Linked DNA regions of Homo sapiens: regions 1 and 2 are each linked to region 3. Evidence: fine-mapped QTL for protein levels in blood plasma. A gene starts in region 3. Each other region holds a variant in brackets. All regions are shown on one strand. Distances are between the middles of the regions. Region 1 overlaps SIRPB1 (signal regulatory protein beta 1). Region 2 holds the start of SIRPD (signal regulatory protein delta). Region 3 holds the start of SIRPB1 (signal regulatory protein beta 1).

Region 1 (8,182 bases), 43 kb before region 3:
CCAAGGGCCAAAAGTAGATAGAAACCCCACCCTGGGAAGATGAGTGAGGGTAAGTGCAAGGGCATAGCCTGGCATGTAGTAGGTGCTTAATAAATAACCCCTGTGACTGTAATCATGAGGTTTGGTCATTACTGCTTCTGGAGCTGCATAGCTATTCTTTAGGCAACAGAACAAAGAGGCACACAAACACCAAGGAAAGGCTCAAACCCTACTCACCGCAGCTGCCAGAAAAAACCCAAATGATAAAAGGAGCAGCAACCACCATGTTTGGCGAACTGGCTTTCAAGTAAGATCACAGGGGAAGCTGGAAGCATTTTGGAAGAAGGAGGGAAAAGATACCTCAGTGACATCTGGGAGTGCTGAGGGAGGGAGGCTTCTGGGGCTGAGGAGTGAGGATTTGCTGGGACTCCAGCACGTGTTTAGATACAAATGTTTTCAAGACAGAAGGTTCCCCAGCCCTGAGGCTGCATCTGAGCCAGGCTTTGTCCCAGTCTCCTATCTTGGGCCCTGAGGCCAGTAGCATGGGAGGGGTCCTGTTCAGGCTTCTGGGGCCTCCCAGAATGTTTCCAGAATGGCTGTTTTGAAGCACCCATGACCCAAAAAGCTGTTCTCAAAGCCCCAAAACCTGGGGCACCGCTTTTGCTAGGGGGCTGTGTATGAGAATCTTCTGGAGCCATTAAGAACTTTAGATATCCAGGCCCAAATTAGATGCAATTAAATTGGCATTTTAGGGGGGTTCCTGGGTCCAGCTTTGCAAACTTTTTTTTTGATAGTTTTCCCAATGATTCTAATGAGCAGCCAAGGTTGAAAGCCACTGGACTCCAACCCAAACCCCATTTATACTTGGGGCCTAGAGATGCCCTGACCTGTCTGAGGTCACACAGCTTCACCCTAACACAACTCACCTTTATTGAGCATTTACTGTGTGCTTGTTGATGCCCTAAGCATTTTACACAATATCACTCCTTCAGACTCGGCCCAGTCTGTGAGGTCAGTGTTACCATCAAAGGGTGAGGACATCGAGGCCTATGGTGGTGAAGCACCTTGTCCCAGGTCACAGAGCCAGGAAGTGGCAGAGCCGGGAAGAGGCCCAGGCAGCTGGGATACTGCCTGTGTTCTCCTAACGACAGTTCTGCAGAAGCTCAGTAATAACCTGAATGACACCACCATTAGGGGCTCTGTGCACATCCTCTCCAATCCTCACAGAACCCAGAATAGGCCATGATAATCAGCATCTCACCGATGGGGAAACCGAGGACTCAAGGGAAGGCAAGACTGGCCCAAGATCACACGATCTTGAAATAACACCTCACTTTGGGGGTGCCTACAGTGTGCTAGGTGATTTACAGAGAGAACCTTACGCTTACGACTTTCCTAAAGGAGTCCATGATTGTCTCTATTCTACAGATGAAGATGCCGTGGCTGAACAAAATGAAGGCACTGTCTCCCGATTCTCCATGTGTCCCAGTGGGCATTTCCTGTGTCCCACCAAGCACTTATGTCCATTAACAGAGCAAGTGTTCTAACTTCTTGAGCTCCAACACTGACTGCCACCTCAATTGTCCCTTTGAGATTCTAGACTTCATGCAATGTTAGGGAGAAGCCTCCCTCCTGGGTGCCCAGGCCTGGTTACCCTGCAGCCATAAGCAAAAGACAGTGGGCTCCTGACAGCCGGAGGGGAGAATCTCAACTCTTGCTCACATGGGCCCCAAACACTCTCTAGGAAATGCCTCATCTCCTCATCCTTAGTCCTCAGCACCATGAACGGGCAGATACGTGCTCTGCTGGGCTGCAGGAGGCTCGACTCTGCTCATTGGACGCTGCTGAGTGAAGAGGAAACAACACAACATGGGGGAAGAGTCCTAAATGCCTCATGTGTGTTGAGACCTGTCCTTTAGGAACCGGCTTGGCATATCATGAGACATGCGCAGGGCCTTTCTGATGGGAGTGTGAAGACAGGCCCTCCTACCCCTACAGGGTTCTTGTTTTGTTTTTAATGCTTTTTGCTGTAGAACTGAACAATGCAAGAGTTTAGAAAGAGAAGGTTGGAGCATTTCTCCACTCTTGAAAAACCACAGTTGAGTGTCACAAAGACAAAGGCTGTGAGTCAGGCTGCGGGGTTCCAGCCTTGGCTCCCTGACCTGCTCCCAAGTCAGGTCTCCTCTCTGAGCTTCAGTGTCCTCATCTTTAAAGGAGGTAGCAAATGGCTTCTCCCTCATAGCACTGGTTATAAGGAGACTCTGGCACAGTTGCTGCTCTCTGGCCCCCTTCCCCACCTCCCTCCTTTCTCATGTAGCTCATCATTTAGGCCGAGAGCATGGCAAAGAGGAGTGAGTACTTCACTAGGAGTGAGCAGATCTGAGTCACACCTGAGCCACCACTGGCTGTGGCTGCCTGGGCTGGGGAGGCACCACCTGGGCATTTCAGTGTCTTTGCCAATATTATCTGCACAATCAGGATAAAGCCACCTTCCTTGTCTAAGTTCAAGGGTTGTGGGGAGCTGATTTCAGTCATTACTGAGCAATGTACATTTTCATGTACATACATGTACATGAAAGCATCATGTTTTAGGCTTTACATATACACATTTTTTTAAAAAGCTGTTAGTAAAGCTATGTGTCTTCTGGAGGTTCTGTTTTTTTGCCTTTCCAAATTCCAGAGGCTGCCCACATTCCTTTCTCACAGTTACATCTTCCCATCACTCTAACCTCTTGCTTATATCCTCACAAGTCCTTCTCTGAGAATTAATCTCCTTCCTCTGTCTTGTAAGGACCTTTCTTATGTATTGTGTCCACCCTGATGCTAGAGCCAGATGTTAAAACCACTGTCTTAAAAATGTTTGAAGTGGGGCCAGGCATGGTGGCTCACGCCTGTAATCCCAGCAGTTTGGGAGGCTGAGGCGGGTGGATCACCTGAGTTTGGGAGTTCGAGACCAGCCTGAACAACATGGAGAAACCCTGTCTCTACAAAATACAAAATTAGCCAGGCATGGTAGCTCAAGTCTGTAATCTCTGATTGCTACATCATCTAGAAGGGAAATTAGGCAATATTCTCAAATATGAAAACACACTATCCTCTGACCTAGAAACACCACTTCCAGTGGGAATCTCCCACCTGAGTAGGGTGACACATGTACAAGGTCATCCACTGCATGATTGTTGTAGTAGCTCAATGTTGGGAATAACTTACATATCCATCAACAGAAGACTGTAAAATAAATTTTGGTATTTCCATAAATTGGAGTATTTTTCAGCTGTAAAAAAACTGGAGCAGTTCTCTATGTCCTGATGTGGAATCTCGATATGAAATGACAGGGCTTACATTTGGGAGAAGTTTTCTAGTCACCAATGAGCTTTAGTATCTGAATGTGAGGTGCATTCTTAACATTTGGGAAACTGATGAAAAGAGAAATGCTGGCTCTCTGACACCTGGCTCTGTTTGGGGAACTTTTATCTAGCACCTATGATGCACCAGGCTCTTCTATGGAGACAGCGTCTAATGCTGGGGAAGGAAGGAGACTGCCACGATTCAGATATGGACTCTGGCTCCAATTCTGTCACTAACTGGCCCTGTGACCATGGACAAGGCCCCTGTCATGTCTTGGCTTCAGTCTCCCATCTGTAAAGGGGGTTGGGCTGGATGGTCTGAAGGTCCTTCCTGTGCTGACATGCCAGAATTCAGCAGTTAAGACGAGGCTTTTGGGGCTCTGGCAGGAAACCCCACATAAGCATTGTTGCTACCTTATATGGGGAACCCCTAAGTCACCCACTTGTGGGACCTCTTTCCTGAGGTGAGGGACATTCTGAGATGATGCAGCTCTGCTCGGAGCCCATGGTAACTCTGTGACTCAGTCCCCAAATCACAGAAGGGTTTCCCAAATAGACCCACAGCAAATGCCAAACATATTGGCATCTCCTCCCACCAAGCCATCAGATTCAACCGTGAATGTGCCTCCGAGAAATCTTCCCCGTGGGGTGTTTCTGAAGATTAAATTAAAAAAAAAAACAACCACGATTTACCCTCTCCATGCCCTGGACGGATTTCTCCTCATTAGAAGGGAAGAGAATGTAAGCTTGGTGGGGGAGCGCTTTAGGCTGTTTCATTCACTGCTGTTTGCGCAGCATCCAGGGCAGAGCCTGGCACACAGTGGGGTCTCAGTGACTGCCTGTTGCATAAAGAAGGGACTTGGCCACCCTGAGGGGGAAGCATTCTCTGGAGGCAGAAGGCAAGGTCCAGCCCTGTGCCTGGACAAGTCACTCAAATTGTGAGTTCCCTCATCTGTGGAACCAAAGGGCTGGGTCAGCTTTGGAAACACAAGAGCTGTAGAGCCGCAGACTGGGGATGCCTTCTGTCCCATCATTTACAAGCCGTGGAGCCTCGAGCGACTGCCATGACATCTCCAAGCCTCAACTCATGTGATCTGGAGAAAGGGTGACATCAGTTCATGAAAGGGTGGCTGCTCAGCCACCACCACACCTGGCTGTTGCTCCAAGAATGGATAATGTAATTATTGAGTTATTGTCACACACCAGGGGACAAAGGAGGCCCACGCTGTACTCACCGCGCACAGACAGCTCAGTGCCTGCTCCAGACTTAAACTCCACGTCGTCAGGGCTCCCTTTCCGGAACTTCACACAGTAGTAGGTGCCGGCGTCTGCTGGGGTGATGTTACTGATGCTGATGGAAAAGTCCAGGTTGTTTCTCTTTGTGAGTTCTGAAACAGTTGTTACCCGTGGGAAGTGGCCTTCTTTCTGATTGTAGATTAATTCCCGGCCTGCTCCAGCTCCTCTAAACCACATGATGGGCCCCACAGGGATCAGGGACGTCATAGCACAG[C/T]GCAGAGTGGCCGACTCTCCAGCTGCAACTGATACGGACTTTTCAGGCTGAATCACCTGTAGCTCGTCCTCACCTGCCACTCCTGGAAAGGAGCACAAAGCAGTCATTTCTTCATCCTTACCTGATTCTCTGTGTTTCCTCAAGTGTTTATCAATGGCTTTCATTGACTGGGTGCACACCAGGAAAAGGCCTTGAGCTCAGCCCACTACATGTATTATCTCATTTAACCCTCACAACTGGCCTGTGACGTAAGACTGTAATACAAGCGAGAACACTGAGGCACAGAGAGGTTCAATTTCCTTTTCCTTACTTTCTTCTGTTCTTTCTGTTTGCTTTCTTTTCTTTTCTTTTTTGAGACGGGGTCTTGCTCTGTCTGCTGCCCAGGCTGGAGTGCAGTGGTGCAATCACAGCTCACTGTAGCCTCAATCTTCCAGGCTCAAGAGATCCTTTCTCCTTGGCCTGCCAAGTAGCTGGGACCACAGGTGCATTCCACCATACCTGGCCAATTTTTGTATTTTTTCTAGAGACACAGTTTCACCATGTTGCCCACAGTGGTCTCTAACTCTTGGGCTCAAGCAAACCATCTGCCTTGGCCTTTCAAATTGCTGGGATTATAGGTGTCAGCCACCGCGCCTGGCCAAGAGGTTCAATTTCAATGTAGAGCTTTGGGTTGAGGACCTGAGTAGAACTATTGAGCCCTCCTCGGAAGTGCCATGTTTTGCCAATTATGGCCTCCACTCTGTGGTACATGGAGTGTGGCACTTTTTGTATCACTGGATTGGGTGGGGCCCTGTGACTTCTTTAGACCCTTGAGTTATGAGCAGAATGATGGGTATAATTTGTGGGCTGTGCATTTAACTGCAAGAGCCTCTGTGGATCAATTTCTCCCTTCCGGAGACCACGAGGCTCTGATAGGGCCTGCTCCATCGCCTGGATGCGTGAATGACCGTTGCATGCAGAACTGCCAATCCACACTGAATATGTAGCTTCCAGTAGAAATATAACCTTGTTTTAAGCCCCTGGTAATTTTTCACCCATAGCATAATCACATTACCTAAGTTTCCTAATGCTGATGTGACAAATTACCAAAACTTAGTGTGTTAAAAGAAATGTAACATTTTATAGTTCTGGAGGTTAGAAGTCCAAAATAGTGTTACTGGGGTACAATGAAGAAGAAATGATGAACGTCAAATACACAAAGATAGAGAATAAAACAGTGGTGACTAGGGGTGAACTTGGGGGAGTTGATGGGGAGGTCAAAAGACACAAAATTGTGATAAGTCTGAGGAAGAAGTCCAGAGAATGAATGTGCAATCTGAGGATTTTAGTTAATAATGTTGTATTGAATTCAGTATTTTTGCTTAAGAAGCACATTTTAGGTGCTGTTGACATACAACACATGCAGCATAACTATGGGAGATGATGGATGTGTCCATTTGCTTAACTTTAATAACCATTTCACTACGTATATGTACATGTATACATATATGAAAGCACCATGTTTTACACCTTCCATGTCTACATTTTTTAAGGCGCTTTCAGCAGAGCTGTGTGTCTTCTGGAGGCTCTGTTTTTTGCCTTTCCAAATTCTAGAGGTTTCTCCCATCCCTTTCTCACAGTTACATCTTCCCACCACTCTAACCTCTTGCATCTTCACCTGCAAACATCCTGGAATACAAGGATGTTTCAATGTCCTTCTCCAAGAATTAATCTTCCTCCTTCTTATAAGCACCCTTGTGATGTATTAGCTCCACCCTGATACTAGACCCAGATATTAAAATCACTGCCTTAAAAATGCTGAGAGGTAAAGGAAATAACGGACCAAGAACTAAAGGAATATAAATGTCTTAACAAAATGAGAATGTAAAGAAAGAGAAATTATAGGAAGAAATCAAACAGAAACTTAGGAATTGAAAGTACAATAACTAAAAGTTCACTAGAGGGGTCCCCCCAATGGGTATAAGCCGGTGGAAGAATAATCAGAAAACTGGAAGATGGAATAATTGAAATTATTGAGACTGAGGTGTGGGTGGAAAATAGAATAAAGTATAGAGCACAGAATCTAAGGGAATTGTGAGACATTATCAAATGTATCAACATACACCTTACTAGAGTTCCAGGGGGAAAAAAGAGAAAGAGAGAAAGGAATAGAAGATTATATGAAAACAGAGTGGACAAAAATCTTCACAAACTTGTTAAAATACAGGAATCTACAAATTGAAGACACAGAAGAAACGCAAGTTGAACCCACAAATAAACTCAGAGACCCACACTAAGACACATTATAATCCAAATGTTGACACCTAAAGTCCAGGTGAGACTCCTTAAAGCAGCAAGACAGAAGCGATTTCTTCCATACAAGAGACCCTCAATAAGATTTTCAGCTCAGCTCTTATGCAATGCACCGAAGGCCAGAAGATAGGGGGATGGTAAGTTCAAAATGTTGAAAGAGGAAAAACATGTCAATCATGAATTCTATACCTGGCAAAGTGTCCTTCAAATACAAGGGAGAAATTATGATATTCTCAGATAAACAAAAGCTAACAGAGTTCATGACCATTAAACCTTGCCTACAAGAAATGCTAAAGGGAGTGCTTCAGGTGGAAATGAAAGGATGCTATATGGCAACTCAAAGTTGTATGAAGAAATAAAGATATCCAGTTATGTGTACATTTTTTAAAAATCATGCTTCAATATCCCACAAACAAGCTGTGAGCACCCTGCCCAGGTGACCAGGTAACCAGTATTTTAAAGCTGGTCCCTGCCACAATTCCTCTTCTTGTCTTCCCCTACTGTGACCTAGTGACATTGAAACACTCTAGTAAAAGTGTTTTTGCTTGTGTCCTCCACCTTGACTCCCAGTAAAGGCACTTGCCCAGGGATCCCATCTCTCTTGCCTACCCATCTGCTTGATTGAGCCTGCTCCTTGGGAGCTCCTTCCACATGGCTTCCTGCATGGCCTGCCCTACTTCTGTCTCTAGGAACTGTGAGTATGCCTCTTCATATGAACTTTTCATGGCCATGTTAGAGTGATCCTCTAAGATTCAACCAGCAGGAGTCACTCTAACATTTTCTATAGTAATGGCAATGAGGATGGGATCATTCTAAACTCAGGTGGAAAGTTCCTAGGGAATGCCTTTGACTCATGACTTACTGATTTGCTACTCTGATTGGCTCCACAATTTGAGAAGGCTTTTTACCCTGATGACTTTCTTGTGCTATGCTATGTACAGCTTTGTGTTGCCTTTTGGAGTGCTGCCATGGCTCTCCATCCTGAAGCGAGGATCCTGTTCCAATATCAATAATGACATCCACCTTTCTCCAAGAGCACAAGATGATATAACAT
Region 2 (8,158 bases), 59 kb before region 3:
ATGGGAACAGGTGAGGGAGAGTTCACTAAACAGGCAGAGGGGAGAACCCACCACACACATACACTGAGGCCCCACTCACCTGCCAGTTCAAGCAGCAGATACAGCAGTAAGGAAGGCAGAGGTGGGTGGAGTGGGGAGGCAGGGATGGGCATTGTGGTGAAACCTGGAGCTTGCTCTGCCTGAATGCCTGTCCTGGAGATGCCCTCGACTCAGTGCTCCGAGCAGAGAAGACAGTTCTTGCCTCTGTGATGTCAGAGGAAGGGGATTGTGATGAGAGGAAAGGCCAGGGGACTGGGACACTTTTTCCTTTGTGATTATAAAATTGAACAGACAAGGTTGCTTCAAGCTAGGAAGTTGCTGCTGGAAGTATTTAGCTTTGCTGGGGCTGGGGGGCTTGACACCCACAGCCTTATACTCCTTCCTGAGTTTCATCCCATCTCACAGGTTCTCCCCAACTTCATGGCCTTTGCCTATCTAGGAGCCTCAGACACATAGGCTAGACAAAGGCCTCATCCACATGATGCGCAGGTATGGGTCTAGCTCCTGCATGAGCTCAACATCTGGGCCTGTCTGAGCTGCACAGCTGAAGAAAGAGACAAGATGTCTATAGCCTCACCCACTTGGTAAGAGTTGGACTTTACAATGGATGCCCTTTCTTGCACTCCAGAGTAGTTAGAGGTAAAAAACAAGCAATATCTGCTGTGGGCTCTTGGCTTTTCTGTGGGTCCCTCCATACACTACCAGGAACTGCTTCCTTTTTCCTTCCTGCAGAGGAATCAGGCATGGCTGAGAAAGACATTCGAGTTGTGCAGGTGGTGATGATTTGTGCTTTAGAGGATGGAGGAGGCCTGCAGGGAAGGCGGAGCTGCGGGGAACACTCTCTAGGAGGGAGAGTAACATGCCTACAAACACCTGGGAAGGTGAGGGCTGCCTCTCCTGCTTGGGCTGGACCTGGGACCAGCTCTCAGAGATGGGATTGGAGGGGCAGAAGAAATGCCCCCAGAAAGAGGGAGGAAG[C/T]AGCATGTTGGCATCCTTCTCTCTCAGCTCTGGAATGGGTTCTTCCTAAGCACAAATGTTGTGTTCAGGGACACTCAGCCCACACTCAGCTGGTGACCCTTTAATGTCCAAGCATCCACAGGCAGGCACTGGCTGCCATGGCTGTTTCCCCATTGCCTCCTCATGACTTCTGCCTCCTCCTCAGGAACCAGCTAGATGTCAGGGCCGGGAGAGGTGTTAGACCCTCTAGGAAAAGAAAGCAGAGCCAGGCTGGCACGTTCTCTCTGAGACGACAAGAGTCCCCATCCCCTTGTGATGTCATCATCCTATCCCGTTGTTCTGAAATGATGAATTCCACAAAGGAATTCCTATCCATGGCCCCTGCTTGGAACTAGACAGGAACATTCCTCCAGCCTCCATCATCCTCCCCTTCCCCTACTCTGAGGAATCTTCTCACCTTTCATTAGACTCTAAGTTCCTTGGAGAGTCAGTACTCACGGGTCAGTATCCAAGAGTGCCAGCTTTGGAATCAGATATAATCTAGGCTAGAATCCTGAACGCACCTCCTAAGAGCTGAGTAATCTTGGGCCCATGATACAGACCTGTATATTCTGCAACCTTCTTGACATCTTCATTTGTATATATATATATATATGTATTTTTTTTTTCGAGACAGAGTTTCGCTCTTGTTGCCCAGGCTGGAGTGCAATGGTATGACCTCGGCTCACTGCAACCTCTGCCTCCCGAGTTCAAGTGATTCTCCTGCCTCAGCCTCCCGAGTAGCTGAGACTACAGGCGCCCACCACCACGCCTGGCTAATTTTTGTATTTTTAATAGAGACAGGGTTTCACCATATTGGTTAGGCTGGTCTCGAACTTCTGACCTCAGATGATCCACCTGCCTCAGCCTCCCAAAGTGCTGGGATTTCAGGTGTGAGCCACTGAGCCTGGCCTCTTTGTATACCTTAAATATTCAAGTTTGAGTTTCAGATCTGCACTCACAAACCTTATCTTCTCCCACACCATGCCTGTTTTGTATATGGTACCATCATCTAAGCAGTTTGTCAAACCAGGAAGGGACTCATGTTCTATACCCTCACTTATCCACTTGTTACCAAGTGAAAGGGGGTTGCTGCCTGATGTGCTAGAAGCCAATACTGTGACACCAGGCTTTTGAGAAAAGAAAAGCTTTTTATTGCAAGTTGACTAACAGGAAGACAGAAGTCTACCTCAAATCTAGCTCCATGTGCTGGCTTCAAGGCAGTAGTTTTATTAGCAAAAGTTTAGGGGTTGGATTCTGGGATTAGTATGTGATTTGTGAAAGGAAAGGGGAGGTCTGGAAAGTCCTTGGGCATGTACAGTTATCTCTCTATGCCTCTTCACGGCTCCCATGTGCAAAACCCTGGGGCGTCATCATGAAATACGTGGTAGAAACTCAGGCTGTGACATCAGCAAGCTCATTCTGAGCAAACTCCAGTTGGCCATATTGGTTCCAACAGATTTTAGTCAGTTTTGTTATCCTACAAGTGGAGGAAGTTTCGGCAGTTTAGCAATTTTTTTTTTTTCTTATCTGCTATCCTGTAAACTCAAGAATTTCTTAGTGACTGGTTTCTTTAACTCTTTGGGGGCATAGTTTCACACTCCTATCTTGCCCCTACCAGGCCCTATTGGATTTACCTCCTAAATCCCTTCTGAATTAATCTCTTTCTCCATCTCTATCATCATCTCTTGCCTGAATAAGAACAATTGCCTTCTCACTAGGGTACCCCCATTTTTATTTGCCCCCTATAATCTCTTTCTCCTTCTTCAGCCAGACTGGTCTTTTTACAACATAGATTTAATTATGTCCCTCTCTTGAATAAACATTTTTGTGGATTCTCATTAATCTGGAGGTACTATAAACAAGGCTTTCTTCTGTGACTGACTTGCTCCCTTAGAGATGAAGGGATCCCCACCTTTCTGATACGTAGCATAGCTTCACTGTCCCAGGTTGGGTTCCCTGGGAGACAGACTCTGGGGTGAAGATGAACAAGCAGGTTATCTTTCAGGGAGTACTTTTAGGATCAACACTTGTGGACGGGAGAAGATGGAAGCAGGACTGGGTAGAAGAAGAAGCTGGGCTGCAATGAAGTCCCATTGAAGACCTCAGCTGACCTTGCATGGAGCCTGGTACTAGGATATTCCTCCAGAGTTGCTCTGAGTTAGGATAAGAGAGCTGGGCCTTTATACGACTAGGTTGATGAGTCCAATGAGATGTGGTTTGTTACCAGATACGACCTAAGCAAGGGCACTCCCTTCAGCTGAGACAATCGCAAATAGAGCTGATGCTGAGGACCATCTCCACAGCCAGGTGCCTCTCAGCATCCATTACACAATTCATGGGAACAACTTGTTCCTGTGAAGACTTGGGCTCAGGACATTATTCACTCACTCATAGTCAGGTCCTCAAAGCTATCCCAGCTCACCCACATAACCCAAAGTTTTCTGATCCCACTTGGTCTGACCTGGATTTTACTAATGGGAAAAGTTTAGGGTGAGCATCACGGGGGATTGAGAAGCCACTTCCTCTGGGATCTGAGTGCCTAGATCTGGGGTGAGCTCTGGTAGTGGACAGAGGAAGGACGAGAGGAAAGGAAACCTCAGGCTTTTGAAGTGAGATAAAACTTTGGAATATCAACAAAGTCTCCCTACCGCACATTTCCTTGCATTGTTCCCCACGGGGTACAAGAGGCAAATAAAACCTAGCTGAGGACAAGACGTTAATTTTTTCTAATAGACTTAATTTTTTAAGGACAGCTTTAGATTTACAGAAAAATTGAGCCCTATCATTAGCATCTTACATTGATATGATACATTATTATAATCAATGAACCAATATTGATACATTATGATTAATCAAAGTTCATAGTTTATTTAGATCTTTTCTTTTTACCTAATGTCGTTTTTCTCTTCCAGCATCCCATCCAGGATACCTGTTACATTTACTTGTCATATCTCCTCAAGCTTCTCTTGGCTATGACAGTTTTTTAGACTTTCCTTGATTTTGATGACCTTGACAGTTTTGAGGAGTTCTGGGCCCGATGTTGCAGAATGCCTCCTTATTGAAATTTGTCTGATGTTTTCCTCATGATTAGATTGGGGTTGTGAGTTTTGGGGGGAAGGTAATAGAGGAAAAGTGTCATCTTCATCACATCATATTAAAGGTACATATTAGTGACATGATTTATGATTCTTGATGTTGATTTATAACTGTTGATGAACTCTTGATCACCTGGCTGAAGCTGTATTTGTCAGATTTTTCCACTGTAAAGTTATTTTTTCTCCTTTTTTCCATGCTGTACTCTTTGCAAAGAAGTCGCAGTGCACAGCCCACACTTCAGGAGTGGAAGTTATGTTCCACCTCCTTTAGAGTGGAGTGTATAAATAAATTATCTGGGACTCTTCTGCACTGGAGATTCTTCTCTTCTTTCCCATTAATTTATTCAATCATTTATTTATATCAGTATGGACTCAGATATTTATTTTATACTTTGGACTATAACTCATTACTACTTTACTTATTTTTTTGCTGAAAGTGTTCCAGCTTTGGCCTTTGGGAGCTCTTTCAGTTGGTTCCTGCGCCTCTTTGATGTACTCCAGTCACTGTGGGTTTTGGTTTTGGGGTTGACTTTTTTTTCTTGTTAGCACTTTCTTACTTTCTAGAGGATGTTGAATTTTTGATGGAATGTTTTAAACAGAAAGAAGAGAGAGTAGTCTTTAAAGAAAGAGCTTGAGAATACAGCACACAAGCCAAGTGATCAAATGAAGAGAAGTTTTCTTTTGAAATCCAACACCTAGTAGAAACCAATGACCTCAATGATGTATTCACTCATTTAAAAAAATTGACAGCCTATTATATGGCAGACACAGTTCTGGCAACTGAGGATACAGATAATCCTCCCCCACCCCCAACCCCCCACGATATAACTGACATTCCATTTGCGTAACATAGATAAATACAGGCAGTTCTCACTTTGGTGATGACATGCATGCATTTCTCTTACCATAGTTTAGTTAAGTAACATCAGTCCCACAACACAAGTCTCAAAATTTAGGTGCCATAGTAAATTTAATGTAATTTGCATAGAGTACAAACTTCTGGGCTAGCTCTTCAGTCCACAAATCACCATGGTAATAAAAGCTCGTCATGATCAGTAACCAGTCATGTTGTGTCTTTCAAAGTCTGTTGGTGATTGGTCCCTATGGCTCTCCTACTCAAACAGCAAATCCTATAGTTGGGTTGCCTCCTTGCCTCCCAGTGATGAGCCCATATGACATTTTACAGAAATGAATAATTGAAAGAGGAATTTTGCAACCAAGATGAAAGTGCAGTGAAGAAATGAGAAGTGAAAATGCTGCAAGTGAGGTTCAAATTGAATGTGAGTGGAATTCTAGAAGTACAAATAGTTGACTGTGGCAATGTAGACCCTGATGCAGGAACTTCAGATAGGCAGCCAGAGGGAGGTAGTAAACGCAAACTGCCACAAATGGGAGAGGAGTGGTAATAAAAGGGCTGAAGATGTCCCAAAGGTTGAAATGCCAGCAAAAAACTTCACATGAAAGGATCTTCTGGAGTGATTCCACAATATTGAAAATTCAAGGGATAAGATGTTGGAAGCTAGTCCAAACTTAGAAAGATGGCAAAACACCAAGGTATAATAGAAATGATGCTTGCTGGCTAGGCATGGTGGCTCATGCCTGTAATCCCAGCACTTTGGGAGGCCAAGACAGGTGGATCACCTGAGGTCGGGAGTTCAAGACTAGTCTGATCAACATGGAGAAACCCCATCTCTACTAAAAATACAAAATTAGCTGGGTGTGGTGGTACATGCCTGTAATCCCAGCTACTCAGGAGGCTGAGGCAGGAGAATCACTTGAACCCTGGAGGCGGGGGTTGCAGTGAGCCAAGATCACGACATTGCACTCCAGCCTGGGCAATAAGGGTGAAACTCCATCTCAAAAAAATAAAAATAAAATAAACAAATGAAAAGAAACAATGCTTGCTCCGTGTATTAGCCCATTCTCACACTGCTATAAAGAACTACCAGAAACTGGATATTTTATGAATAAAAGAGGTTTAATTGGACTCACAGTTCCACAGGCTTAACAGGAAGCATGACTGGGAGGCCTCAGGAAACTTACAACCATGGTGGAAGGAGAAAAGGAAGCAGGCACCTTCTTCACATGGTGGCAGGAGGGAGAGAGAGAGAGAGAGCGAAGGGGGACTTGCCACACACTTTCAAAAAACCAGATCTCATGAGAACTCACTGAGATCTTATGAGAACTCACTATCACAAGAACAGCAAGGGGGAAGTCCGCCCCCATGATTCAGTCACCTCCTACCAGGCCCATCCCACAACACATGCAGATTACAATTTAAGATGAGATTTGGATGGAGACACAGAGCCAAACTATATCACTCCATATTAGAAATATACAAAAAAAGGCAAGCACTCTTCCAACTACTCTGGATACATTTTTACAAAGAAACAGCACTTGAACTCTCAATGTTTCTAATGCTTTGAATTGTAGTGCACAAATAAATATTTATTTCATTATATTTTCATTGTCCTCTACATTTGTAACTGAGAGTGTGAGAGTTTCTAATATTTTGACAAAAAATGGTAAAGGTCACAGAATGATCATTGTTTTTCTGATTGACTATGGAGACTGCTTTCCTGGGTTTCAGGTTGCACAGTCATTTTTGCAATCTTGCACTGCCATGAAAAGTGAGGGCTGCCTGTATTCGGCATAATACTCATCAAAATAAGGGCTAAAGAAAAATTAATTAGGATAAGAGAAATTAGAATGCCGGGATAGAGAAAATAAATAATATTTTATACAAGGTAGTTTATAGAAGGTGCCTTTAATGAAGTGACATTGAGCAGAGACTTGAAGGAGGGAGAGCGGGAGCCATGCAGCTGTGTTGGGGAAGAAGCAGAGAAGTGATATGATTTGACTTTTCCAAAGAATCACTGTGGCTGAAAAATGAAAGCCAGAGGAGTGGTCCCCAAAGAGATGATGCTGGCTGGGACAGGGAGGGGTGGTGGAGGTGAGAGGTGTGGAGAATAGGGATTTAACTCTGAGGTTTCCAGCAGCAGGCTTGGACTGGGCCCTGAAAACCAATTGTTAAATTTCAGGAATCTTGCAATCTGGTTGTTTAACTGTTGGCAGTGTGAAATTGGTCAGGTTGGGAGTTATTACACTAGAGAAATTGGCAAGCACTGCAAAACAGCTTTTGGTTTTTCCCTTTCAGAAAGTCCATTGTTAAACATTTACCATCTCATGTAAGTGGACACATGCATTTTGGAGGCAGAACTGAATATGAGTTGTAAAGGGCAGTCATCGAGGGCTCCTCAATGTTGGGCTGTGGCAGCATTTCTACCACAAGCAGCAGGACTGGGAAGGCTGCAGGATACTAGAAGAAATACTGTCTCCATCACAGAGAGAGAAGGGAGAGCTTCTTTCTTTTTGGGTTTGAGGGATAGGATGCTTGGACAAAGAGGAAAGAGAATCATTTTTTTCTTAAAATTGGTATAGGGGTTCATGTGTATTCAGGAGGCAGTAGAGAACCTCAACAAGGCTGGGGGAGTTGGGGTAGGCAGGAATCCAGAAGACAGGATAACTCTTGAGAGCCTGGAGAGAGTCTGTGGTTTATGGCCAGTCCCAAGGCGACGGATGGGAGAAGTCCTGGTGTGTTTAGATTTGGAGTGTTTCTCACCTTCTAGGGAGGTGCCATGAGTCAGTGCCCAGAGCCCAATCCCATGGCCCCTGCTCAGGACCGTGAATAGAGACACTGCTTTGGGGCATCATGGTCTTGTGAAGGTGGAACAGGAGCGTGTGGGCAGGCAGATGACCTGGGAGAGGAGGCGTTTGGAGCTGAGTGTGGGGAAGGTTCTCGCCAGCTCCTTCTCTCAGGCTGAGCTTCTCAAGAAAGGAGGAGGCAGCAGAGACTGAGGGTCCTACATGGCAGGGAAGGAAGGAAGGAGCTGTTGGAAAACACATCCACATTCATTCATCTGCTCATCATTTAAGAAATGTTTCCTGAGAGCCTGATATGTCCCTAGTGCTGGTCTCCTCTTGGGATGCCTGTTATGGGTGGACAGGCAGACCTGAGATAGGAC
Region 3 (8,182 bases):
TACTGGAAGAAAAGTGCCATGACATTGGTGTGGGCAATGAATTTTCAGATATGAGTCCCAAAGCACAGGCAACAAAAGAAAAATAGACAAACGGCATTACAACAAACTAAAAAGCTTCTACACAGCCAAGGAAACAATCAACAGAGTGAAAAGACAACCAGCAGAATGGAAGAAGATATTTGCTAGCCATGCATCTAATGAAAAGTCAATATACAAAATATATAAGGAAGTGAAACAACTCAATATTAAGAAAACAACCCAACTAAAATATGGGCCAAAGATCTTAAAACCCATTTCTCAAAAGAAGACATTAAAATGGCCATCAGACCTATAAAAATACTCAGCCTTACTATTCATCTGGTAAATGCAAATTAAAACCACAGTGAGCTATCATCTCACACTTGTTAGAATGGCTACTATAAAAAAGATGATAACTAGTTTTGGAGAGGATGTGGAGAAAAGGGAATTCTTGCACATAGTTAGTGGGAATGTAAATTAGTAGAGCCATTAGCAAAAACAGTATGGAGGCTCCTCAAAAAATTAAAAATAGAACTATCATATGATCTGGCAATCTCACTATTGGGCATACATCCAAAGGAAATGACATAAGCATGTCACAGAGATATCTGTGCTCCCATGTCCATTGCAGCATTATTTACAATAGCCAGGATATTAAATTAACCTAGATGTCCATCAGCAGATAAATGGAGAAAGGAAATTGGTATACACAATGGAATTCTAATCAGCCTGACCAAAGAAGGAAATCCTATCATTTCCAACAATATAAATGATCCTGGAAGATATTATGCTAAGTAAAATAAGCCAGGCACAGAAAGACAATACTGCATAATGTCTCTCATATGTGGAATTTTAAAAAGTTGAACTCATAGAAGTAGATAGTAGAATATTGGTTACCAGGCACTAGGCAGGGGGTGCATTTGGAGAGATATTGGTCAAAGGATACAAAATTTCAGTTTAGTTAGGAGAAATTAGTTCCACAAATCTATTGTACAATATGGGGTCTAGAGTTCATAACACAATTCGTAACCTCAAAAATTGTTGAAAGCAGATTTTGAGAGATCTCACCACAGAAATGATACATATACAAGGTAGGTCATATGTTAATTAGCTCAAATTAGGCATTCTGCAATGTACACATATTTCATTAATATGGTATACATGATAAGTATATACAGTTCTGTCAAATAAAAATAAAATATTTTGTTAAAAGTTTCATTGAAATTAGAAACTTGGAGAAACAATGATAAAAAATGAAATCTCCTGTGTGTGCATGTACACTTACTTATATGCATACATGCATATACATATGTATACACACATATGTATACACACATTTGCAAATATATATACACACACATATATGTATATATACACACACACACATATATATGTATATATAGACACACACATATACATTCACAAATATATATCAAAGTGTGACCTATTGTGATAGTATATAAGTTTGTTTTGTGTATTAAATAAAATTACAACACACGTTAAAATCTCATTAAAATATCTGGCCCATAGAAAGTAAAATATGTGGCCCATAGAAAGCATCCAACACATTAATAACAAATTTAGAAGTACATACATCACAGTTGTAACTCTGGTTGTTGCTAACAAGTGTGGTAGGCAATAATTAATTCTATGTTTACTTCCCTGCATTTTCTAATATTTCTGCTAGTAGCATAACACGACTAAAAGAATGAACTTTGGAGCCGGTCGACCTGGACTTGAATCTCAGCTGCTCCACTGACTGAGGTAGGGGACAATGAATGGACAAGTTCCTCCCTCTGCCTGAGTCTTTGTTTGGAAATAGGGGATAATAGTTGCAGCTTTCACACAGGGATGTTGTGAGGATTAGTGGAGCTAAAACAGGCAAAATGCTAATAACTGTGTCTACATGGTAGGAAGAGCTCAATTGTTAAACTCTTACTGCTGTCATTTGGGTACAGTGTATGTGTGAGAAAAATAATTTGAAAAGTGAGACCCCTGCCCTCTAGGGCCTGTGAGGTGACATCACAGCAGGGCCCAGTGGGGAATTGAGAGGCTGCTGTGCCCAGCCCTGTGGTTCTGGGGTCAGCTCCATGGCCTGAGAAGGGATCAGGACAGGTAACTTGTCTGGGAGCTGTGAGCAGGGTTCTCCCAGGCTGCACCAGGAAAGGCCCTCCAATCCTGCCTGTCTTGGGAAGGGGAAAGAAATTATCCATGGGAAATTTAAGAGAACCAAAGGAGGTTGTAGTACCTGTTATGGGCTGAATGTGTCCCACAAAATGCATGTGTTGAAGCTCTAATCCCCAGCACCTCTGAACGTTACAGTTTGGGAGACAGGGTCTTTAAGAAGTAATTTAGTTAAATGAGGTCATTGGGGTGGGCCTTAATACAACAAGACTGATATTCTCATAAGAAGAGGAGATGAGGACACAGACACACACAGAGGAAGATCATGTGTTTAAGACACAGAGAGAAAATGGCCCTGTATAAGCCAAGGAGAGAGACTTCAGTAGAAACTAACCCTGCTGACACCTTGATCTTGGACTTCAGCCTCCTTAACTGCAAGGAAGTAAATATCTGTAGTTTCAGCCACCCAGCCTGCAGTTCTTTGTTATGGAAGCCCTAGGAAAGGAATATAGGACCCAGTAAGCAGCAAATGTGGAACTTCTTAAAGAGGAAGAGGCCACAGAGAAATGGGTGGTAAGAATCAGGTCACAGGGGAGGGAGGAGCATGGGGGAACAGAGGACAAAGTGAGGAGCACCCTTAGGGAGGATGGTGGCTGAACACTCCCAGGATACACCACACCACTGCCCTACTCAAGTGAGCACTATTACAGACTTCACATCCTCAGTTTGGTGAAGAGAGAGGGCTGGGCCTAGAGCCACATAACCCTGTTAGGGTGTCTCTGAGCTTACTCTGTGGACTTGGGCATGTCACTTGGCCCTAGGGCCTCAGGACTGGTGAGGATTTAGATAATGATTCTTCTCTGCTTTTTCAATTGAAATATTATCAAAATGTAAGTAATTGTTGTTGTGGTGGTTGAATCGTCCTGTGGTTCAATGCCTCTGGTAGCCAGCTGCAGATCCACAGAGAAAGTGCTCAGCTCCCTGATTTTCTGCTCTCAGTCAAAGCCTAATCCTTGGCCTTTCTTGGCAGCACTTGTCATTGTCCGGAATCCCTGAAAGTCCAGGGACAGGCCATGGCTCAGTGGGCAGGAAAAAAGATTTTAACCGAAGGCAGTGCTCACCTGTGAGTCTCCCCAGCAGTAGCGTCATCAGCAGGAAAGGACTAGGAAGGTGGGGCCAGGAGGCTGGCACGGGCATTCTGGAGACCTTAGGAGCCTGCTCTGTCCAAACGTCTGTGCTGGGAAGATCGCAGACTCTGCTCTGAGGAGAGAAGACAAGCCCTGCCTCCCTTAGTTCAAGAGGAAGTGGCTGCGATGGAGTGAAGCAGTAACCTGCTTCTGGATTGTGAAACAGAAATCAGGAACAGCAAGCAGCTACAATGCAAGCAGTTATGCATGCCCCATTTCAGGAGAATCAGACAGGCTTAGCAGAAATAATGCTTCCTTCCCACCTGAGGTCTTAACTCCTTCCATGACTCCTAACCCCATCTTTATGTCTTCTTGGTGATTTGCCATTTGGTGCTCTTAAGCCAGGAAGGACCTGTGGTTATGAAATGTTTCCTAAACTTTCCATCTCAAGACCTCAGGATGTGGTTGGCTTGTGGTCTCATTCTACAACAGCCTCAACCAAGTGCTACTCAGTTGGGGCAGGATGAGGGATCACTGGACCTGCTCAGTGTTGGAGAGGAACAGGTCTGCTCTTGAAATGGTTCCCTATTCCGAACTTTTATAAATATAAATGGCAAAACTTAGCCCAAATTCAGTCTCATGTGGCCGTTAGCACTTTCATATGCCTGCACCCAGCAGAAGGAATTATTTCCTGACTTCTTCCAGGAGAGGAAGTGGGCTTAGGGTAATAAGGATCTGCTTTGTGAGGTGAGGTGGGGATTATGGGTTATGGAAAGGGGATATGTTTATTATGGGGGAGAATATGGAGGGCAGATTCCTGGAGCAGTCACATCGATTTCAATACTCTTTGCTCTGCACATAGAACACCTATTCCATTCATCACTGTCTTCAGATGGGAACTGAGGAGGGAGGGAGAATAAATACCCTAAGAAGATGTGCTAAGGAGTTGGGGAAGTTACTGGGCCTGCCTAGGTTCAGTTTTGCCTTCTAACCTTGGGATAATAAGTCTCACTGCCATGTTTTAGTGAACATCAAAAGAGATAATGACTATACATCCCTGAGATTCAGTAGGTTATTATTGATACTCATGGTGCCAGGTGAAGAGAGGGAACTCAAATATTGCTTTTAAATGGATTTCTACTGCATGCTGAGTTTCCCACCAGTGGCCTTCTCCCATGTTCCCCGGACTTCTGGAACCCAGCTTTTATGGTGTACTTGGTCTACCTCTGACACTCTGAGATCAATTTCTCCCTCTGGATCCTCTTCACCCTGCTTTTTGTCAATCTGTAGATGAATTCCTTTTCTTACAATCTCCAGCTGTGTGACTTTCAACAAGACACTTGACTTCTCTAAGCCTTAACTTAATTACATGTAAATGGAAGTTATAACATGCACCTTGTAGTGATATGGTAAGAGTAATATAAGCCATACAGAAGGTTTGATTCATATTTAATTATAACCAAAAAATTGTGGCTATAATTACATTTGTGTACAGGGTGAGTTCACTGCTTCCCTGACATACTTGTGCTTTAGAAAAATTTCCTTGGTAGGAGAAATGGTTTCTCCTCCATCATCTGTGACTAAGAAAGACCTGTCTGGAAACCTCTCTTTCCCATGCTGGGCTTGCAATCCTTCACCTATCATGAGTAATTGTCAAATGAAATTGTAAAAGTCATCACATTTCCATGCAAATTTCTTTTTCAATGTGGCAGATGCACAGAGGGTGAAATCATCACCTCCTGCTCCACACTCACAGAAATGAATATAAAAATGATAAAATCATGTTAATCGATGCCAAATTACACTTTAAAACAAGAAACTAGTCTCTATATGACATGAAGGGTAGTAGCTGCTGTGTTTACTGCAGATGTCCTGTGCTCCAGGTACTGTGCCAAGCATTTTGTCAGTTACCTCATTAATTCATCACTCTGGTCCCATGAAATTAGCACTACCATTAACCTTTTTTTATAGGTGAGGAAACTTGAGGCACGCAGGCAATAATACATTTGTTCAACATCACCCAGCTTTTAGAACTAGAACACAGGTTGTCACACTCCATGGCCTTCACTATGACACCTCTCATAAGAAGGGAGAGATATCTCTCAGGAAGGAAGCAGAGAAGAAGCCATAACGTCAATTAGGCGCAGCCTCCACAGCAAGGTTGGGATAGGTGCCATGTTCCATAAAGTGCTGACAGCCCATGATCACTCAGGGCATTATTCCTGTAAAGATTACAGTGAAAGCAGTAATCACTAAAGATTTGGGGAAAAGCGACATCATAATAAATTCAAAAACAATAACTAAAAAACAAAAACAGCAATGAAAATAACATCTTAGAAAATAATACCTCAGAAAATAAAAATATAAAATGTGAAAATATTTTTAACATTAACATATTTAGTAACCTTATAGAGATAATGAAAAGAAAGTAAATCCATAAAACAAAGTCACGTGTGAAACAAGAATAGGTAGGTGTGCAGTAACAACAGGTATCTGAGAAAAGTAATAAAAAGAAGAATTTTGAAAAAATATAATTAGTGCTAAATTGTTTAAAAAACAAATAGGTGGATGTATTAATCTGTTCTTTCTATAATTGTTATAATGAAATACCTGAGACTGAGACTGGGTAATTGATAAAGAGAAGAGGTTTAATTGGCTGATGGTTTCAGAGGCTTTACAGGAAGCATAATGCTGGTATCAGCTTCTGGGAGGTCACAGGAAACTTACAAAAATGGCAAAAGGTGAAGGGGAAGTGAGCATATTTACACGACCAGAGCAGGAGGGAGAGAGAGAGTAGGGAGGTGCCACACATTTTAAAACCACCAGATCTCATGAGAACTCACTCATCATCATGAGAACAGCACCAAGAGGGAAATCTGACCCAAAGACCCAGCCAACTTCCACCAGGTCCTACCTCCAACACTGGGGGTTACAATTCAACATGAGATTTTGGTGGTGGCACAGATCTAAACCTTATCATTTTCTCCTGCCCACTTTCAAATATTATGTCCTTATCACATTGCAAATACAATCATACCTTCCCAGAAGTCCCCCAAAGTCTTAACTCATTTCAGTATTAAGTCAAAAGTCCAAAGTCTTATCTGAGACAAGGCAAGTGCCTTCCACCTATAAGCCTGTAAAATTAAAAATAAGTCAGTTACTTCCAAGATACAATGGGGTATAGGCATTGGCTTTAGCCATCTGAATGGGAATACTCCCATTTCAAAAGAGATACATTGCCCAAAAGAAAGGGAATACAGGCCTATGCAATGCAATCTGAAACCCAGCAGGGCAGCCATTAAAGCTCCAAAATTATCTCCTTTGACTCCATGTCTCACATCCAGGGCACACTGGTGGAAGGGGTGCACTCCCAAAACCTGAGCAGCTCCACCTCTGTGCCTTTGCAAAATTCAAATTCCACGGTTCTTCTCATACTTGGTGTTGAATGCCTGCAGCTTTTCCCCGCACATGGTGCAAGCTGCTAGTGGATCTATCAATCTTTGGTCTGGAGGAAGGTGGCCCTCTTCTCACAGCTCCACTAGGCAATGCCCCAGTGGGAATTGTGTGGGGGCTCCAACCCCACATTTCCCTTCTGCACTGCCCTAGTAGAGGTTCTTCATGAGGGCTCCGGCTTCTGCCTGGACATCTAGACTTTTCCATATATCCTCTGACATCTAGGCAGAGGCTCCCAATCCTCAGCTCTTGTACTCTGCATACCTGCAGAATTCACACCACATGGAGCCACCAGGGCTTATGGCTGGCACCCTCTGAAGCAGCAGCCGAGATATACTCGAGCCCCTTCGAGCCAAGACCGGAGCTGGAGTGAATGCGGTGCAGTGGGCCGTGTCCGAAGGCCGCACACGGCAGCAGGCCCTGGTTCTGGCTCTCAAAACCATTCTTCCCTCTTAGACCTCTGTGCCTGTAAAGAGATGGTCTCTGAAATGCCTTTGAAGGCTTTTCCCAGTGTTTTCAATATTAGCATTTGGCTTCTTTTTACTCATGCAAAGTTCACAGCCTGCTTGAATTCGTTGCCTGAAAATGGGCCTTTCTTTTCTACCACATGTCCAGGCTGCAAATTTTCCAAGCTTTTATGCTCTGCTTCCCTTTTAAATATAAGTTCCAGTTTCAAGTCATCTCTGTGCTTACGCATATGAATTAGGCTGTTAGAAGCAGCGAGGTAACTGCTTCTTCTTTTTTGTGTGTGATATAAAGTCTTACTCTGTCACCCAGGCTGGAGTGCAGTGGTGCAATCTTGGCTTACTGCAACCTCCATCTCCCGGGTTCAAGTGAGTCTCCTGCCTCAGCCTGCTAAATAGCTGGGACTACAGGTGTGTGCCATGCACCACCACACCTGGCTAATTTTTTTTTTTTTTTTGTATTTTTAGTAGTGATGGGGTTTCACCATATTGGCCAGACTGGTCTCAAACTCCTAACCTCGTGATCTGCCCGCCTCGGCCTCCCAAAGTGCTGGGATTACAGACGTGAGCCACTGTGCCCCGCCTCAGGAAATTTCTTGAATGCTTTGCTGCTTAGAAATTTCTTCCAGCAGATACTCTAAATTGTCACTCCCAAGTTCAATGTTTCACAGAACCCCAGGGCAGGGGCACAGTGCCTCCAAGCTCTTTGCCAAGACTTAACAAAACCGATCTTTGCTCCAGTTGCCAGGAAGTTCATCATTTCCATCTGAGACCTCCTCAGCCTGGACTTCATGGTCCATATTACTCTCAGCATTTTGGTCACAATTCAAGAAATCTCTGGGAAATTCCCAGCTTTCGCTCATCTTCCTGTCTTCTAAGCCCTCTACACTCATTCAACCTCTGCTCATTATCCAGTTCCAAAGCCACTTCCACATTTGCAGGTAACTTTATAGCAATGCCCCACTCGTCAGTATCAATTTTTTGTATTAGTTCATT

The links. PIP is the posterior inclusion probability: the model's chance that the variant is causal. Sun 2018 read protein levels with aptamers (SomaScan).
Region 1: its variant is fine-mapped to the plasma level of the SIRPB1 protein (Sun 2018, PIP 0.95). The variant lies in the coding sequence of SIRPB1. If it changes the protein, the assay may bind it differently, which can mimic a change of level.
Region 2: its variant is fine-mapped to the plasma level of the SIRPB1 protein (Sun 2018, PIP 0.95).

The regions. Positions count from the first base shown.
Region 1 is chr20:1,573,777-1,581,958 of GRCh38, forward strand. It overlaps SIRPB1 (signal regulatory protein beta 1), which reads right to left. Exons shown (of 6, transcript NM_006065.5): 2 at 4,562-4,918. Among named protein-coding and RNA genes, the nearest start is that of SIRPD, 20 kb to the left of the region's middle. The variant C/T (reference allele first, on the strand shown) is at 4,837.
Region 2 is chr20:1,557,502-1,565,659 of GRCh38, forward strand. It overlaps SIRPD (signal regulatory protein delta), which reads right to left and starts at 204. Exons shown (of 4, transcript NM_178460.3): 1 at 80-204. The coding sequence starts at 152. SIRPB1 (signal regulatory protein beta 1) reads right to left here. Exons shown (of 6, transcript NM_006065.5): 6 at 3,884-7,996. LOC107985409 (a long non-coding RNA gene) reads left to right here and starts at 506. Exons shown (of 3, transcript XR_007067493.1): 1 at 506-623; 2 at 3,044-3,164; 3 at 3,951-4,036. The variant C/T (reference allele first, on the strand shown) is at 1,018.
Region 3 is chr20:1,616,606-1,624,787 of GRCh38, forward strand. It overlaps SIRPB1 (signal regulatory protein beta 1), which reads right to left and starts at 3,404. Exons shown (of 6, transcript NM_006065.5): 1 at 3,264-3,404. The coding sequence starts at 3,339.